Homo sapiens: one gene and its partner. The protein of the gene in region 1 purifies or fractionates together with the protein of each later gene. This does not show direct contact. Each region holds a gene or a part of one and is shown on either strand. Other genes may lie near its edges.

Region 1 (3,500 bases):
AGAGGCTGGTGTCCCCTAAGACAGTGCCTTGGCCCTGTGAACATCCCGTGAGGACTTTCCACGCCGTGGTTCTGTTAGTTGTCCGGAAGGAGAAGCCTAGAGGAGTGGCGGCCCCATGCTGGGTTTCCATCCAGCAGCGCACACGGGCTCTGGCCACTTCAGCCTCCTCAGTCAACACGCCGGGCCTTCCGTGACGCTGGCCCACACTAACGCCCGGAACCACACCCGCAGCAGACTCATCCCGGTCGCATGACCTACCGGAAGGAGACCAGGTGTCTGCCCTCCACCTTGCAGGCAGCCGGCAGAGGCCAGAGGCAGCAAGTCAGTGCTGGGCTCCTCTCCGCCGCCTGGCCAGAGCCCCGCCCTGCTGGTTCACGCAGCTTTGCTCCAGCTGTCCCTCCACCTGGTGTGCCGGCCCCAGCCCCACCTTCCCACCCACCTTCACTGGCTTGCCCCAAACTGACACCTCTGCCCTAAAGACGTGCCCTTCCTTCACTTTGCCTGGTCTGCCTGTCCTCACTGCAGCCGGAGCCAGCTTCCCACCGTACATCTCATGGGGCTGCCAAGGAATGTCTGGGTCTTACTGCCCCAGGGAAGAAGCTTCCTGCACTCACCCTGTTTCCTCCAAAACTCAGCCTGGGGATTTGTATGGAATGAATTAATGAATGAACGAATGACTCATTGCTCAGAAAAGCCTCCCAAGTCGAAGGCTTCACTCTCTGTCTCAGTGAAGGAGGGAGGGTGACCCTCTTCCCTGGGGGCTGCTGTGTACTCCCTCTCCTTCTCTATAGATGGGCTAATAACAACAGTGCCCCCTCGGAAGGCTGCTGTGAGAATTAGGGCAGGGACCACCAGAGAGCTTTTGGGACAGCACCTGCCACAGAGTCAGAGCTCCACAGAGGTCAGGAGGCATCACTGGGGATTCAGCCTGAGGATGTGCAGAAAAGGCGAGCCCAAGTGGACGTGGTCTTCACCCCTCCCACTTCATCCCGCCCACCCTGGACCTTGCAGTTCTGCTCTCCAGAGGGCGGCTCTGCCCCAGGCCCACCCTGCCGTGGGCCAAGGGCTCCCTCTTCCCTCCTGCATGGGCCCCACTGGCTCAGAGCTGAGCATCACCCTCTCCAGCTCCCTCTTTTAAATGCAAAAGTGACCCCTTGAAATGAGCCTTAAAATCCTGGCTTAGCAAGGGCAGGGAAGGGTGAGGCTGGCTCTGCACCCTGATCTTCCAACTGCTGGCTGTAGGCACAGCTCCCAGGGCCCTTGGGGCTGGAGGCCACCTGCCCTCCTTGAGTCAGGGAGTTATTTTTGGTTCTCCATCCAGACTGCTTCTGCCAAGACCTCAGGAACTGACAGGATCCAAAAAAGCCCATGGCAGAGCCTCAGTGGAATCTTGGCACATGCAGTTCAGGAAAGCGTCCCTCTCCAGTCACGAGCACTCAGGATGCACACACAAGGAGGGAAGAGGAGGGGAGAGGCAGGAGAGGGCTGGCCGGGCTTCCTGCACTGTTGGAGGCTCAGGAAATGGCCCAAACGGGCTCTCTCTCCTAGGAAGGCCTGGGCTTGGAGGGCCAGCATGCTCAGCTGGAGGGGCAGAGGCCCCCCGACGGCCCCAGACGGGCTCAGAGGGCAGAGCGCTGTGCAAGGCCGGGAGCCTGGACAAGCTGATGCCCCTGCGGATGAGACAATCTGCCTCTTGCTATTCACAAGAGGAGGCCACTTCTACGCAGCAGCATGGACGATCTCATAGAACAGGCCCGGGGAGATGCCCACTGAGGACCTCAGGCCAGAGACAGAGGGGTCTCTGGGCAACAAAGGAGACAGACCAGGAGGGCTGAGTGCCCTGAAGCAGGCAGATGGGGTTCCTGTCCTGCTGCCTGTCCTCTGAGCCTATCTCCCTTGGTCACAGCTTTTACCTCCTGCAATCCGGGAAGACTTAAGCTGGAAGAAGTCTGCAAAGCTGGGAACTTGGACAAACCGATGTCCAAAATGCAGATGAAAGAAGCTGAGAACCATGCTGCATCCCCGCCAGGCCTCGAGATCAGACCCAGGGCCTGGGCTGGGGCGGCCACTGAGGAAAGGGTCACGGCAGACCCTCTTCCTCGCATGGCAGGAAGGGCGGGCCTCCAGGAGACTCTCACCGCCTGTCATCTGGAGAACTTCCTGGGAGAAGCCCTGGCCGCCCGGGCCCCACTCAGTCAGTGCTTCTGAGCGGCTTTTTAGATTTTGGTTTATTTCCTCCCCTGTCACTCTAGTGGGTTTTCCTTCAGAATCCACTGGCAAGGGCTTAACTCTCTATCCTTGAACGCACCATGTGTGCTGGTGACAGTGGCTCACTGTCTAGCTCCACTCAGGGCCGGGGGCAGGAGAAGACAGACCCTCTCTCTGCCTGGCTGACCCTTTCTCACATCTCAGGGTCAGGGAACAAGAGGGAGGCTTCAGGTTTGTCTCCCCCAGGACAGAGTGTAGGGCATGGTGCCAGAGCCAAGCACTATGCCCTGCCATCCCGAGCTGGGACGGGGGCCTGCAACTGGACTTGCATCAACCTAGATACCCAGGCAGGCCCAGCTCCCAGCGGCTGACAGGGGACTCTGAAGCTGGAGCCAGCGGGCTTTGTTAAGACGCGTTCCAGTGAAACAAAAAGACCCGACTGACCCTGAAGCCCAGGCTCTGTCTGTGCTTATGGGTGTCTGGGGGCTTCCCAGGCTTTGGGAAAAAAAAGAAACTAAGGAAGCCTTTAGCACCAGAGTGCCAGGATGGTATATCTGGGAGGAGCCCTTCAAATCAGCTGGCCCCCTCACCCCTCATTTATAGAGAGGACCACGGAGGCCTGAAGCTGACAGGCACATGCCACGCCCCGGGAGCTCCATGGGTAGAGCAGCATCGTGCACTGACCCTCACGCTTCTGGCTTCGCTCAGCTTTGCTGCTGGGGCATCTGACTCTGCAGGCTCCCCTGGAGAGAGGGCCCCACGCCCAGCTCAGGGGACGAGGCCAGGGGCACGGGGCAGCACTGACTCTCCCCTTGCCTGGCAACAAGACTTGCTCCAGGGGAACCGGCAAACTGCCTCCTTTCCAGAGGATGCCCGAGAGGAGAGGTTCAGATTCAAGTTTCTGGCTGGGCCATTAGGAAAATCATATAATGCCATCAAAAGAGGGATCTTCAGAATTGGAAACTGAAAACTGATGGAGCCCTGGTCCTTGTTTTCTCTGTTTCTGAGTATGTTCTGGGCTTGTCAGCAACAGTGACTTGAAGAAGGTAGCAGCAAGGAGAGAACTATCAGGAAGACTTTGGGAGAGCCTCTCCTCCAGGCTTACTGCAGGAAGGGAACCCGGACCCTGTTCACTAGACCATGGAACCTGCAGTCACACTTCACACCAGCAGGAACAGCAGGCACACCAAGAAACTGCGGGGTCCGGGACAGGGGAGGAAACTGCCCACTACTGGAGGCCACGTCTCACAGAAGCCCTCACCACCCAGGACGGCCGGCAGCGGGTGCCGGCT
Region 2 (3,500 bases), on another chromosome or scaffold:
CCACTCCATCAAAGTTTGACTCCAGGAAAAACAAAAACTAACGTTTAAAATATATAGGGAAAGCCAAAATATCAGTAGGAGAATACAGTGATTTCAGTTTACTTTGTCCTTGTGAAATGACTCCCTAGTTCTAAAAAGCATGATGTTCTGTGCTGTGAACATTGAGGTAGCATCCTTTTGAAATCTCCATTTGTGTCATGTTCAGGAAATCATAAATGAGCAAATAACAATTCATTCTGGTAGCCCTAGTTTTCAGTTGTCTCATTTAATTGAAGACCTCCACTTCTCTGCATTGACAACTGAGTTACTCGGGTGCTTGGGGTCTGGGTCATTAGTCAGCATCATCATGGTCATAAGCATTTTCAGGGACCTCAGAGTGTGCCATGTGCCCTACAGGAGGCAAGGGCACCTGAGACATCCGCCTGTTCTGTGAGACAGTGATTTCCTGCCCTGGTTTTTGCAAGGTTACTACCTGTAGTGGCTCCCCTGGTTCTCAGCATCCCAGCCCTCTGTAGCCCCTGCCTTGCCCAGTGCCTCACCCCTTCCCAGTGGCAGGAGCCAGTGGGAACTAAGAGCCTTCAGTGTAAGCCCTTATTGGAGCTAGGACTGCAGGTGAGATATGTTCTCTGTAGTAGCGTGTAGTATTTCTAGATATTTACTGATAATTTATGCAATACTTAGCTATGTATGCCCTGCCGCACCCTGTTTCCTTCTCTTACTCAGGTGCTGTCACACTTACTGGTCCCTGACACATACTGTTTACATTGTATCACACTAGGCTATAATATCCCATTTACCCACCCAATTTTTTAACTTAAAATATTTTTAAACCTGGCTGGGCGCGGTGGCTCACGCCTGTAATCCCAGCACTTTGGGAGGCTATGGCAGGTGGATCACCTGAGGTCAGGAGTTTGAAACCAGCCTGGCCAACATGGTGAAACCCTGTCTCTACTAAAAAATACAAAAATTAGTCCGGCGTTGGTGGTGCGTGCCTGTAATCCCAGCTCAGGAGGCTGAGGTGGGAGAATCACTTGAACCTGGGAGGCAGAGGTTGTAGTGAGTCGAGATCATTCCACTGCACTCCAGCCTGGGTGACAGAGCGAGACTGTCTCAAAAAAAAAAAAAAAAAAAAAAAGTATTTTAAACTTCCTTAAAACTTCTTAAAATCAGTTCAGTTATACAGTGTTAACATTCTCACCTGAAAATACTTAAATGGTTGGCATGATAGGAAATTTGACATTTATGTAGCTAAATTATTTGTATTTCATTTCTCTAGTCTTTAATCTTATGGTTTAAATCTCTAGATGGTACCATTACAGCGAGATTAAAAACAAAGAAGTCTAAAGGAAAAGGAAATGTAAAGAGAATCATTCTTCCACTCTATGCTTTGCATTAAAGGATATTTAGAATTGAAGGTTAAGACTATTGTGATAAAACAATAACTTCCAAGACATTCAAAGTGTTTTACTTACAACATTTCATACATTTTTAAGTAGATTAGAAATATACTTTATCATATTTTCCAAGCATATCACAGGGAAAGTAGAGAATCATCTACTACCCTTCTTGACCAAAGTGCCTCCACCTTTGCCCCTGTGATATGTCCTATACTCAATTATGTGAAGGAACCTGCCTTTCCCCAACATAATGTACACTTTCCCACCTCCAGGCCTTTCCTCAGGCTGTTGGCTGTTCCTGGAATACCCCTGCCCTCCCTCTAGATGGGTCTGGAGAATCTTAACCAATCAAGCTTGAAGGCTGAGCGCAGATGTCACTTTTTTTGTATGTGTGGAGGAGGAGAACTGGTGTGGGAAAATCAATATAAGCTTTGGAACTAGGCCACTGGGCTTGTGATTTCTGGTTTCATTACTTGTCAGCTTTGTAAACTTGGTCAAATTTTAAAACTTCTCTGAGCCCCAATTTCCTTATCTGTAGAATAGGGGTAAAAATACCTAACTTGGAAGGTTGTTTTGGGAATTAAATGAGATAATGATTACAAACTGTTTAATGAACTCTGACCTTCAACAAATGATTTTCCCCTTTTCCTCATGCAACCTTCCCAGAATCTCCTCGTCACCCAAATTGAAATTATTCTCCCCTCCTATTTTCACACTGTAGTTTTTTTGTGTGCCTATGATAACACTTGTGCCTGTCTGCCACAAGTTATTTGGTTTCTTAGCTCCACCCTTAAGTTGCACATTGCCAGGAGGCCAGAATTGGTTCTTACTCAGCTTTATAATCTCCAATTTCTTGCACCTATTAAGTGCTTAATAAAGGCTTGCAGATTTTGAATGAAGAATAGTTTGCTTAAGGTGTGGAAAGGGTTAGTTCATTCTTAAAGGACCCATTAAATACGCACTATTTACTAGGCAAACAGAGAAGCAGAAGTGGATAAAGCAGGAGAAGGGGTTAAAGAGCTTACAAAATCTATTAGGCTGGGTGAGAAATGCAGCCAAAATATTTGTAATATAAGGTAGGCACATGGTACAATATATGGGCTAACTGTTAGGAGTTAGTCTCCTCCCCCACAGTTGGGAGAAATTATATCTAGTTCATGAAAGAGGGACCACAGAAGGCTTTCAGAGAAGGGGTTAATTTTAGTATCGATGGAAAGACAACTCTTGGAGAGGCAGCCAAAAAAAAAAAAGGTTTGGGAGGGGGTCTTCCAGGGAACAGAGTAGGCATGGAAATGGAAAATCACCAGTGACATGCACAGAAGAATTGATGTTAGTATCCTTTGGCTTTGGATAGGAAAACTGAAAAGGAAAGAACTGGCCTACTGAAAAGTTTCATCATTTTCTATTGGGCTTCCCCTCCAAGGTCTGTGATGAGGCATGGACAGTGAACACAGGCAGCCTGTCTTACACATAGGTGAGTTTCCTGCTCTACAAAAGGAAAGATACATGCATCTTCTTTTTGGTTCCTGGCAGGCAACAGAACTTTTAAGTCACCTTGAAAGGCAAATTATGGCATATTTCTGATCAGTAAGAAAGCCGGAAAGCTCACTGATTCCTGGTTCCTGCCAGATGGTTGTCTCTTAGGTCTTAGTCTTCACTCCAAGTTATCTGGGCCCCTTCTCTCTTTCATCTTTTCTTTCCTGAAAAGGGAACTACTACTATCTTTTTTTTAACTTTTATTTTAAGTTCAAGGGTATATGTGCAGGTTTGTTATATGGGTAAACTCGTGTCACAGGGGTTTGTTGTACAGGTTATTTCATCATCCAAGTATTAAGCCTAGTACCCATTAGTTATTTTTTCTGATCCTCTCCCCTCTCCAACCTTCCACCTTCCAATAGGCCTCAGTGTGTGTTGGTTCCCTCTGTATGTCCATGTGTTCTCATCATTTAGCTCCCACTTATAAGTGAGAACATGTGGTATTTGGTTTTCTGGTCCTGTGTTAGTTTGCTAAGGATAATGGCCTCCAGTTCCATTGATGTTCCTGCAGAGGACATGATCTCATTCTTTTTATGGCTACATAATATTCCATGGTGTATATTTACC

What was found. Proteins that work in one complex are often made in the same cells at the same time.
Region 2: the proteins of OLFM1 (region 1) and BMAL2 purify together in Homo sapiens (affinity purification with mass spectrometry; 2 studies listed by BioGRID and IntAct, with this or other methods). This does not show direct contact.

What each region holds. Positions count from the first base shown.
Region 1 is NC_000009.12:135,101,168-135,104,667, reverse strand, and holds part of OLFM1 (noelin isoform 4 precursor), read right to left. Parts: intron 1-3,500. UniProt on the Homo sapiens protein: Contributes to the regulation of axonal growth in the embryonic and adult central nervous system by inhibiting interactions between RTN4R and LINGO1. Inhibits RTN4R-mediated axon growth cone collapse.
Region 2 is NC_000012.12:27,335,836-27,339,335, forward strand, and holds part of BMAL2 (basic helix-loop-helix ARNT-like protein 2), read left to right. Parts: intron 1-3,500. UniProt on the Homo sapiens protein: Transcriptional activator which forms a core component of the circadian clock.